Linked DNA regions of Homo sapiens. The protein of the gene in region 1 interacts with the protein of each later gene in a biochemical or structural test. Each region holds a gene or a part of one and is shown on either strand. Other genes may lie near its edges.

Evidence for each region.
Region 2: the proteins of RELN (region 1) and EFNB2 form a complex in vitro, tested with the Homo sapiens proteins (one study listed by BioGRID).
Region 3: the proteins of RELN (region 1) and EFNB3 form a complex in vitro, tested with the Homo sapiens proteins (one study listed by BioGRID).

Annotation. Positions count from the first base shown.
Region 1 is NC_000007.14:103,542,003-103,545,753, forward strand, and holds part of RELN (reelin isoform a precursor), read right to left. Parts: intron 3,343-3,751; coding exon 3,122-3,342; intron 877-3,121; coding exon 729-876; intron 1-728. UniProt on the Homo sapiens protein: Extracellular matrix serine protease secreted by pioneer neurons that plays a role in layering of neurons in the cerebral cortex and cerebellum by coordinating cell positioning during neurodevelopment.
Region 2 is NC_000013.11:106,528,912-106,532,662, forward strand, and holds part of EFNB2 (ephrin-B2 isoform 1 precursor), read right to left. Parts: intron 3,145-3,751; exon of another isoform or gene 1-3,144. UniProt on the Homo sapiens protein: Cell surface transmembrane ligand for Eph receptors, a family of receptor tyrosine kinases which are crucial for migration, repulsion and adhesion during neuronal, vascular and epithelial development.
Region 3 is NC_000017.11:7,708,202-7,711,952, forward strand, and holds the end of EFNB3 (ephrin-B3 precursor), read left to right. Parts: coding exon 1-49; intron 50-233; coding exon 234-326; intron 327-433; coding exon 434-538; intron 539-965; coding exon 966-1,375; 3' UTR 1,376-3,171; downstream 3,172-3,751. UniProt on the Homo sapiens protein: Cell surface transmembrane ligand for Eph receptors, a family of receptor tyrosine kinases which are crucial for migration, repulsion and adhesion during neuronal, vascular and epithelial development.

The DNA.
Region 1 (3,751 bases):
TTTCTTTGTTCACTTGCAAAATTAGGTCAGGGTTCCATTTTACACATGTTAAACCATCTTTTTTATCTTCCTTGTTAAGTTTTCGGCCCATCAAATGATCAAGGGATACACATCTTGACAGGACATAATCCTCTGAGCCAGTTTAAAATGTTTGTTTCTGAGTGACTGTGTTCAATTTAGAAAATGACTGCTTAGAATGTGTGAGTGAATCATTGGAAAGATGCTTATAAAGAATAAGGCTGCCCTTCAAATGTTTTTAACTTAAATTGCTGGCGGAGATAAAATTAATTATGAATAATTTGAAGATATACTGCATTTCAACTAAGCTTTCTACTAAGCATGGTATAAGTGTAAATAATTTCTACATAGCGCAAGTGCTAATGAAAAGTATGTTATACAGAAAGATAAAGAAGACACAATATTTTATTGAAGTTAAAGTAAATTAAACATTGTTACTTCCTAATCTCAGTCTTATAAAATACCAGATGTTAATTTTTGCCTGTTTAGGTATGTTTCCTTTCTGATTAAGTTATTGAATAATCTCTTTCAATTTTAGAATAGAAATTATGTAACTTGTGTCTTCCTGAAAGCTTTGATAAAGAGAGAAGTTCAGTATTTACAATGGAAGGCCTTGTCCTTGAAATCGCTCTGCTTCCTTCTGATTTGATTATGTTCTGCTATTATACATTACGATGTGGTTTTTTTCAACAGCATCTAAAAATGATTACCTAGCATGTGATAAATCCAGGTCTCGTGTCATCAACATGCGCAAGCCATCTTCATTGAAAAAGAGGTTGTTTCCACTAGAAAGGATTCCACACTTTCGAGATGGTTTCCCACCACTCATTAATAAGAATCTATCAGATTCTAGCTGACCTGAAAAAATTGGAAAATATGGTTTACCTATGACCCCAACTATAGTGAGTTGTATTATATTTTTAAAAGGAGTATGGTAAATGCATTATGTAGTTTCAAAATATGAAGTCATAAATATTAAAGTCATGTTTTAGGATAAGAGGCCTTTTCAACATTTCAGCTTGTTTGAATTGTTTAGCCTTGGCTGGAATAATTTAAAGATTCTTGTGATAGGAGGAGGGGGTATTTTCTTGAGTATCTATGGTCCAGCTAGATGGATCCCTCCTTTCGGCTTGTTCACACTGAAAAAAAGGACACTGGTTAGTCAGAGAGTAGTTCAGGCCATCAGGAAGGTGGGGGCTGTGTAGCCTTTCCACCAGCCTCTCTACTGTGTCCTCTCTAATGTAAGGATAGTATCAGGCAGGGACAACAAAATATTTAAAAAAACAGTTTAGTGGGAGAAATTTCAATACCATTTATTATTGCCTATTAAATAACGCCTTTAAGGCTGGGTGCGGTGGCTCACACCTGTAATCACAGCACTTTGGGAGGCCGAGGCAGGTGGATCACCTGAGGTCAGGAGTTCGAGACCAGCCCGGCCAACATGACAAAACCCTGTCTCTACTAAAAATACAAAAATTAGCTAGGTGTGGTGGCAGGTGCCTGTCATCTTGGCTACTTGGGAGGCTGAGGCAGGAGAATTACTTGAACCCGGGAGGCGGAGGTGGCAGTTAGCCGAAGATTGTGCCACTTCACTCCGGCCTGGGTGAAAGAGCAAAACTCCATCTCAAAAAATAAATAAAATAAAATAAAATATAAAATAAAATACTGTCTTTAAAAACCAGCTCTTAAATCTGTTCAGATACTCCGATTTCGTTTATTTATTTTTTCATTGTGGTAAAATACACATCACATAAGATTTACCATTTTAACCACGTCAAAGTAAACAATTCACTGGCATTTAGTTGATACACTCTGTTGTGCAGCCATCACTACTACCTAGTTCCAGAACTTTTTCATGAGCCCGAAAGGAAACCCTGTGCCTGTTAAACTGTCACTGTCCCCTCACTTTCCCCTCCTCCAACGCTGGCAAATGATAATCTGCTTTCTGTCTTTATGAATTTACTTATTCTGAATATTTCATAAAGACAGATTGACATAATATGTGGCCTTTTGTGTCTGGCTTCTTTCATTTAGCATGTTTTTGAGTTTCATCTATGTTGTAGCATGTATCAGTATTTCATTCCTTTTTATGGCTGAGTAATGTTCCACTGTATGGATATACTTAGATCTAGTTTTAAAATGTATTGTAAAACCATAAATAGAACAAGTTTACAAAAACTGAGCAAAAAGAAAGAAAATCTTTTTTTTTTTTTTTTTTTTTTTTTTTTTTTTTTTTGAGATGGAGTCTCGCTCTGTCGCCCAGGCTAGAGTGCAGTGGTGTGATCTCGGCTCACTGCAAACTCCGCCTCTCAGGTTCAAGCGAATCACCTCCCGAGTAGCTGGGATTACAAGTGCCTGCCAGCGTGCCCGGCTTTTTTGTATTTTTAGTAGAGATGGGGTTTCACCACGTTGGCCAGGCTGGTCTCGAATTCCCGACCTCGTGATCCACCTGCCTCAGCCTCCCAAGGTGCTGGGATTACAGGCATGAGCCACTGCACCAGGCCGAAAGAAAATCTTTTAATCCCACTACCCTAATATAGATGGCTATTATACTTAAGACTTTCTTTTATGGAGGTGTTTTTCCACAGTTTGATCAAAGTGCATATATAATTTAAATGCTTTTTTCTAATCATTACATTACATGCATTTTACTATGTTGTAACATTGTCTTCACACATAATGATACTGAATTCTAGGTGTAAAACTAAACTATAGAAAGTGATGAGAGGCTATTTAAGCAGTTTGTGGTAAAGCAGTAACAGGAATTTATATTTCTGGAAACCCTTCCATCCAAGATTAAGTCTCTATAGATATATTCTAAAATTGTCATTAGGCAGAAATTACATGTGGTAGAAAAAGTTGTGAACACAGCCTTAGTTTTTCTCAATAAAGGTCTTGTAGCATGTATCAGTATTTCACTCACTGACCATTGTTTCCAAAATGGAACCCTATAAATTCAGAACTAAATGAATTCTTGGATGTTCACAATTGAAATAATAATGAGATATTAGAATTAAACTTAATGATTAGTTATCTACCAAAAATTGTGTTTAACATATAAGTTCTTTCACAAGACTACATAGAATTTGTAAGAAAAGACTACCTTCGAAATCATCTTTGAGAAAATCAGGATTTTTGGTGCTTATTTTACAGGTTGGACCTGAGTAGCCAGGGTCACATATACATTTGGTTCCATTGATACAGCTCCCCTGTCCATTACACATCTCCTCACACTGGGGACCGATGTAGACATTATCAATGGCCCATGTCACTGGCTGAGAGCCGGCAGGGTAAAATCCCTGGTACCATCTGAAACGGACAGATCTGGAAAAGAGGACAAGTCTTTCAAAAGCTAATCAACAGAACAATATACCTTCAAAGTATGCACATCTGATCAATGAACAATGGGCAGCTTCTACCTATGCTCAACACCCAAGAAATAGAAAACATTTGCCATTTCAGGAACAAAACTCCATTCCTCAATCTCCAGGATTTTGCCAATAAAGTTCTTGTTTCTTGTAAGCTTTTCCTGATCCTATCAGAATGTCAATGTTTCACTTGATCTTCCCATCTTTTTCAATATTGACTTCCTTGGTGAAGACTTCTCCATCCTTACTATTTTGTTTTATTTTTTTTTTTGAGACAGAGTCTCACTCTGTCCCCCAGGCTGGAGTGCAGTGGCACAATCTTGGCTCACTGCAACCTCCATCTCCCGGGTTCAAGCGATTCTCCT
Region 2 (3,751 bases), on another chromosome or scaffold:
AGCCTGCCCCATTCAACTCAAAGTTTAAGACTCACATTTACGAGTAAAATTACATCTAGGTAGAGCCCACTGCTTTTGGCATATTGGATTACTACTCATTTGAATTAAAACTAAATTCCTCCCTCCCCTTTTAAAAATTGTATTTTATCTTTTTTTCCAGGGTGGGAAAGACAAAACTCACAGAAGAGCTCTGTGGCTGAGGGAGAGGGACAATGTGTCCTGTTTACCTTTGCTTCTCCCATGCAGCGGGAGAGGGAGCTGGGTCTGAAAAGATGGCTGAAATCAAAAGGTCTCTGTTTTCTTTTCAGATAACCCCAGCCCTACCTATCCCCTCTGGTCTCTGTTCCTTCCCAGCATGTCCCTGCCTGAAGCCCAAATAGATTAAGGCAACGACCGCGAAGTGCAGTTAATCCTACAGAACGGCTGCTGCTGTTAGGCCAGGAGTTAAAAAGGAAAATCTCCCAGGCCCTAACAACTGCAGTGATCTGAAGTTTTAATCAGCCCCAATCTCAATCTATAAAAAAGGCAGTCAATGAAATCTACCTTTGCCATATTATCCACCACCAATGAGCAAGAACTGAGCAGCTTTTCTTTACTGCCTCAGCCATCCCAGACCACAAGTAGAGCTTTCATACTTCCTAATCCCAGTTTCCAAGTCTGTGTGGTTCTCACATAATGCCCAACAGCCTGGAGGCAAGGGCCTTCGTCCCGCGCCCTTTTCAGAGACGTGTCATTTCTAACATCAAGCTAATCTATATGTTGCCATGGCTTCACCCTTTATCTGCCTTTACATCTTATGAACTGCATGGATTTACCACATTATTTTTATCTGAAAGACAGAAAATGGTGGTTTTATTGCCATACAATCAGATTACTGCTGCTAGTTTCTCTATGCCTTTTTACTATACTTCAATCAAAAGGGATCAGTTTCTTTATACTCTGCCCTTGATTTACATCACATCTGTAAAGACCTAGTCTGAGTTGTAATCCCCTTATTAACTATGACCAGGGTTGATTTGCCTAAAAATAAAAGCAAATTGTGTCAGACCCTTTCACTTTGTTTTTGATTCGGAACTACAAAATGGATTACTAAAGAAATCTTCAGAGTTCACACGGCTAGTATCGTGCTGAATTTAAAATGAGAATTAAACAAGTTAAACAGGGGAGGCATGTCAACGGTTTACATCTTCCATCATGGGAGAAGGGCTGAATTGCTTATGTCTTTGTATTCTTTGGCTTTATAGAGACAATGAAGCCACAGGAGTTTTTCCAAGCTGTTCGGAACATGTCCCATTTGCTATCCTTCCTTCTTTGCTGTTCTTATATTCCTCCCCCAGCCTCCTTCTAATTCCCCCCTTAAAAAGAAGGGGGGAGCTGTTCCCTGAAAGAGCTAATTCCTGACTAGAAGCTTATAGTTCTATGGGTTCTGCATATTTTAATCAAAATATTTTAAACAGTTGAGCACTCCTCTTTAAGGCTCTACTCCGCTACACAAAGGGTGAGCTCATAAGCAAATCTATGTAGATGTATATTAAGTGACCTGAAAAACAGGTTCTTTATGTCAGCAGCAAAGGCAGGCAGAGATTAGGCTGATAGGAGGACCAGTTTAATCACCTTCCTTAGAAGAGCACTTCTATTTGTCTAATTTGCAATTAAGTATTTTAAGAATGAAGTTCTCATAAAACGTTAAAGAAATATCTTTCCTAAAAATTTTTTTATTAGGGTCTACAATCTGTATTTCCTTTTCCCCTGCCACTCCCATTCCTATGACGCATTACTGCAGTCACGCTGGGATCTCGAATAGTTTCCCATTAGGTGAACGCACTCTAAAACGTCGCCCGAAGTTTGGTGTCATACTGAAGCTCTCGGGAGCTACCTGGAAGATTTCAGAGGAAGGAAAGACAGCAAGGATTTAGTTGCTCCAGTTGCAATGTCCATCTGAAGGCAATTATCTCACTGATCCACCAACCGAAGGATGCACCTCAGTAAGTTTACAGACAAGAGGTTTTAATATAAATCCACCAATTGTTCTTCAGCTGACTCTGTCTGGAGGAACCATTCAAACACATAGTTTTTAGCAAGCTGGTCTCCAGGCCCATGGCGAATTCACCTGTCCACACACTTTAGCTTAAGTCAGAAGCCTCTGGAAATGTTGGAGTCATCTGCATGTCTTTGCGTCGGCAGAACCAGCGTCAACAGCTTATGCTTTGTAAAAGATTTAGAACCAGGTGCTTAGCAAATCATCTTAACCTCCAGCTCCTGTTTCTGGGGCTTGAAGCTGTAACTGTTGAGGTTAAGATGTGCAGTCCCTAGACACATGATTCTCAAATAAATTCTCATCTGAAAAGAAGGCTACCAAGCATGTTGTGAGGTATCGCTTTAGCTTAGTCTTTGTGCTCTGCCTGGCTCAGTTGTCCTGCAGAACAACGACAGTCCATTACCTACAGTTTATCATCCTGACAAAATGTGAGGAATGTGGATGTGAAAGCACTAACAATTCCACCCCTGGTGCTTTGAGCTTTTTTCTCTCTATATTAAAACCGACAAGATTAACCCAAACGCAAACTGTGGAGCATAGTTCAAGGGGCTATTCAATCAGTGCTGAATGTGCATTTGTTTACCTACAAAAATAAGAATTTCAGACACAATGGAAGGCAGGCTGGCTTATATATGTTATTGAATGGACTGTTTAAACAGCACTATCCATTGTAGTTTATTTTATCAATCTCTGACAGGTCTGTATTTATTCAGAGCCTGATTGTGGTGAAGCCCATGTATTATACGTTATCTGGATATCATCCAGCCATTCTTTTGTATCAAGTCAATTAGTATCAGGAATCCAGTATTATATAGGGAAAAAATTACATGGGAAAAGCAAAATGCTATGTTAACTAACTAGTATGTGATGCACAGGGAATGGTAACCCCAGACATAAGGCATTAGTACTCGAAATTTTCAAAGTCAGTGTAATGCATTGCAGAACACCATACCAATACAGATTTGCTCACATTAAAGTAAAATTAATTTTTTTTTAAAAAAGAGCCCACTACTTTACTTAGGCCAAAATCTCCCTCTTGGAAGAAAATGTTCTACTGAAGTGTTAAGTTAAAAACGGAAGCTAGGCATTACTGTTCTCTGCTGAATTAAAAAAAAAACAAAAAAAAAACCAAAACTTTAAACAACCAAAATGGCTACAACGGACCCAACTCTACCAGAACGTATCAAAGCAATGTGAATAACCTAACAGGGCAGCTACTGTTTCAGCACGCAGGACATCTTTCCATTATTACATACAGTCAGGGACGGGAGAGCCGACAATGTGATTAAAGTAGTTACGGAGACGCTGAATTTACAAAGGGTTTTCTGGACCCTGTATCCAAACAGCTGCTGCATGCTCCCTGTGTCGACCACCTGCTAAAAAAGCTGACCTCTGAATGAAACAAATCTAATTACTGATGGCGGCTTCATTACAAATGAATTGTTCCACAGTTCATAGGAACTGATGTGAAACTTCAATGCATTTGATTACCTTCCTGCCACATCATATTTACCGATTCAAACTTTCCTCTGGAAATAAATATAAAACTTCCCCAAGGAAAGCGACCCCCTGTCATCAGGGGGTTGTATGCATTCTCAAAAACTTAGAGAGGACTCTTTCCTATGGCTCCTACAGGAAGAAATCTTTCTGATCTCTGGAGCTAGCATTCAGCTGCAAGGGAGACCTTTTCCAGGCACACATTATCCAGTCATC
Region 3 (3,751 bases), on another chromosome or scaffold:
AATCTCTGGGGCCACGAGTTCCGCTCGCACCACGATTACTACATCATTGGTACTGCTGGGCAGAGGGCACGATTGAGTGGGGGGCTCCTGATACTGAGCAGAGAGGGAGGGGGACCCCTGCAGCCAAGAGGGAGATCCCAGTGCCCTCAGGCAGTGTTCACACCAGGGTGTGGGGCCAGAATCAGGGCTAGATTCTGGAGTGCCAACCTCTTCCTCTGGCTTTTCTCTCCCAGCCACATCGGATGGGACCCGGGAGGGCCTGGAGAGCCTGCAGGGAGGTGTGTGCCTAACCAGAGGCATGAAGGTGCTTCTCCGAGTGGGACAAAGTGAGTGGGGCTGGGGGACACCTCCTGGGCACGAAGGGACGTTGGGGCAGTACGATCATGGTTGGGGCAGTTGTCTCAGCCCCTCTCTGGGTCTTCCTCATCTCCAGGTCCCCGAGGAGGGGCTGTCCCCCGAAAACCTGTGTCTGAAATGCCCATGGAAAGAGACCGAGGGGCAGCCCACAGCCTGGAGCCTGGGAAGGAGAACCTGCCAGGTAGGAACCAGGGGCTAGGCCCCTGCCTTCCCCAGCTTCCTCTGCTCTCAGACCCCAGCTGCCCTGCCGTCACCCTCCCTCCCTCTTCAGTTTTGGGGGCGGTGATACAGGAAAGAGGAGAAGAGAGGATGGGAGGGTGGGAGGGGAATGGAAACCAAATGAGGAAAAGACTCAATTAGAACTAATTAGCCAAGTCAGTGCTTCAATCAGTGCTGTCAGAGAAGTGGGGAGGACTCCGTGGCAGGAAGCTGAAGGGCTGGACACCTGGATTCTGAGCAGAGTTCGGAGGGGGAGGAGAGATGGGGTCCCCAAGGGGCCTGGGCGCTACAAGGGAAGCCCATGGGGACCCCCAGGGTTGGGTGTCCAGGTGCCCAGGTGGCTCCTTCAGTCCCTCCCCCTCTTTCCTCCTTCACCCCTTCCCTGCCAGGTGACCCCACCAGCAATGCAACCTCCCGGGGTGCTGAAGGCCCCCTGCCCCCTCCCAGCATGCCTGCAGTGGCTGGGGCAGCAGGGGGGCTGGCGCTGCTCTTGCTGGGCGTGGCAGGGGCTGGGGGTGCCATGTGTTGGCGGAGACGGCGGGCCAAGCCTTCGGAGAGTCGCCACCCTGGTCCTGGCTCCTTCGGGAGGGGAGGGTCTCTGGGCCTGGGGGGTGGAGGTGGGATGGGACCTCGGGAGGCTGAGCCTGGGGAGCTAGGGATAGCTCTGCGGGGTGGCGGGGCTGCAGATCCCCCCTTCTGCCCCCACTATGAGAAGGTGAGTGGTGACTATGGGCATCCTGTGTATATCGTGCAGGATGGGCCCCCCCAGAGCCCTCCAAACATCTACTACAAGGTATGAGGGCTCCTCTCACGTGGCTATCCTGAATCCAGCCCTTCTTGGGGTGCTCCTCCAGTTTAATTCCTGGTTTGAGGGACACCTCTAACATCTCGGCCCCCTGTGCCCCCCCAGCCCCTTCACTCCTCCCGGCTGCTGTCCTCGTCTCCACTTTTAGGATTCCTTAGGATTCCCACTGCCCCACTTCCTGCCCTCCCGTTTGGCCATGGGTGCCCCCCTCTGTCTCAGTGTCCCTGGATCCTTTTTCCTTGGGGAGGGGCACAGGCTCAGCCTCCTCTCTGACCATGACCCAGGCATCCTTGTCCCCCTCACCCACCCAGAGCTAGGGGCGGGAACAGCCCACCTTTTGGTTGGCACCGCCTTCTTTCTGCCTCTCACTGGTTTTCTCTTCTCTATCTCTTATTCTTTCCCTCTCTTCCGTCTCTAGGTCTGTTCTTCTTCCCTAGCATCCTCCTCCCCACATCTCCTTTCACCCTCTTGGCTTCTTATCCTGTGCCTCTCCCATCTCCTGGGTGGGGGCATCAAAGCATTTCTCCCCTTAGCTTTCAGCCCCCCTTCTGACCTCTCATACCAACCACTCCCCTCAGTCTGCCAAAAATGGGGGCCTTATGGGGAAGGCTCTGACACTCCACCCCAGCTCAGGCCATGGGCAGCAGGGCTCCATTCTCTGGCCTGGCCCAGGCCTCTACATACTTACTCCAGCCATTTGGGGTGGTTGGGTCATGACAGCTACCATGAGAAGAAGTGTCCCGTTTTGTCCAGTGGCCAATAGCAAGATATGAACCGGTCGGGACATGTATGGACTTGGTCTGATGCTGAATGGGCCACTTGGGACCGGAAGTGACTTGCTCCAGACAAGAGGTGACCAGGCCCGGACAGAAATGGCCTGGGAAGTAGCAGAAGCAGTGCAGCAGGAACTGGAAGTGCCTTCATCCAGGACAGGAAGTAGCACTTCTGAAACAGGAAGTGGTCTGGCTGGAACTCCAAGTGGCTTAGTCTGGGGGATCAGGAGGTGGGAGGTGGATGGTTCTTATTCTGTGGAGAAGAAGGGCGGGAAGAACTTCCTTTCAGGAGGAAGCTGGAACTTACTGACTGTAAGAGGTTAGAGGTGGACCGAGAAGGACTTTTCCCAGTCTTCAGTGGCACTTCCCAAGATCTCCCTTCCCTTGTGCTCTGTGCTGATTTTAGGACAGCTAAGATGACTGCCATGTGCTGTGGCAGGCCTAATTTGTCTTGTTCTTTCCTTTCCATATCCCAGTATAATCTCTGTTAATCAACAGGACTACCCCAAGAACCCATGTGCTCTCCCGAGTAACCCAGATGGCTGTCTTGTTCATTCCATCCTACATTTCTGACTCCTTTCAGACTCAACACAGTTCCCTTCTTAGTGACCAAAATGGTGGCCTACTGGCTGGTCTAGCTGACAGTGGTACTTAGCAAAGGCCACTGTTTCCATAGTGACCAGCTGATACCTCTTCCTGCCCTCTAGTGTGCAATTGGGTGTTGCCTCAGTTTCCTCCCAGCTCAGTTTTATTAGATCAAAGCTGTTGTTGGGCACCAGGTTGGCCACCTCAATCACCAGCCAAGATGGTTGCTTTGTCCACCAGAGGTCAAGTTCACCTCTCTGGTGCTGTAGTTCCCAGCTCCTTCCTGATTTTTCTAATCGCTCCTTCTGGGGAACAGGAAGTTGATATTGCCATGGTGGCGGGGTATGCCGTCACCTCAGTAGTTTTACTGTAAAAGGGAAATTTGAACAACAAAAACCAAAAAAAATAAAAATAAAAAACTTCAAAAGTTGACAAGAAGGCTGGAGAATGACTGGACTTGAATTGGGACAAAGGCTTGGTTAGAATGGCTTTCAGCTGAGGGTTGGATTGCATGAAACCAACCAAGGGGGGTGGGTAGGGATAGGGCTAGTTTGGAGTGGTGAGGTTGGCAGTGCTTGGGGAGGCGAAAATGGGCTGGGCGAGAAGGCAGAGGAAGGTGTCACCTCTAGGGGAGGGAGAGAGTAATGCAGGCAGGAGTGGGGTCGCCAATTCATCCATGGGGACAGTCTGAGTGTCTTGCTAAGCCAAAGCACCAGAGACAGGGTAAGACGCAATTAGGATCAAAGTGGTAAAAACATGTTCACATGTTAAAGTCTATTCCCTACCATCCCTACCCAAGGCACTTGAGAAGTTTTGCTGTTGGGGACTCATGGGGAGAAGGGATGTGGCTGATCAGAAGGAAGTAGGAAGGACTCAGGGAGGGACCCAGGCATCAAGCTGCGTGTGCCCTGGCTCCCTGTATACCCATAACCGAGGCTCTTCTCCCCCAAAAAGCCCAGGTGCCCAGTCCCCTAGACTTAGCCCCATTCTCCAACCACAAAAGCAGCCGTCA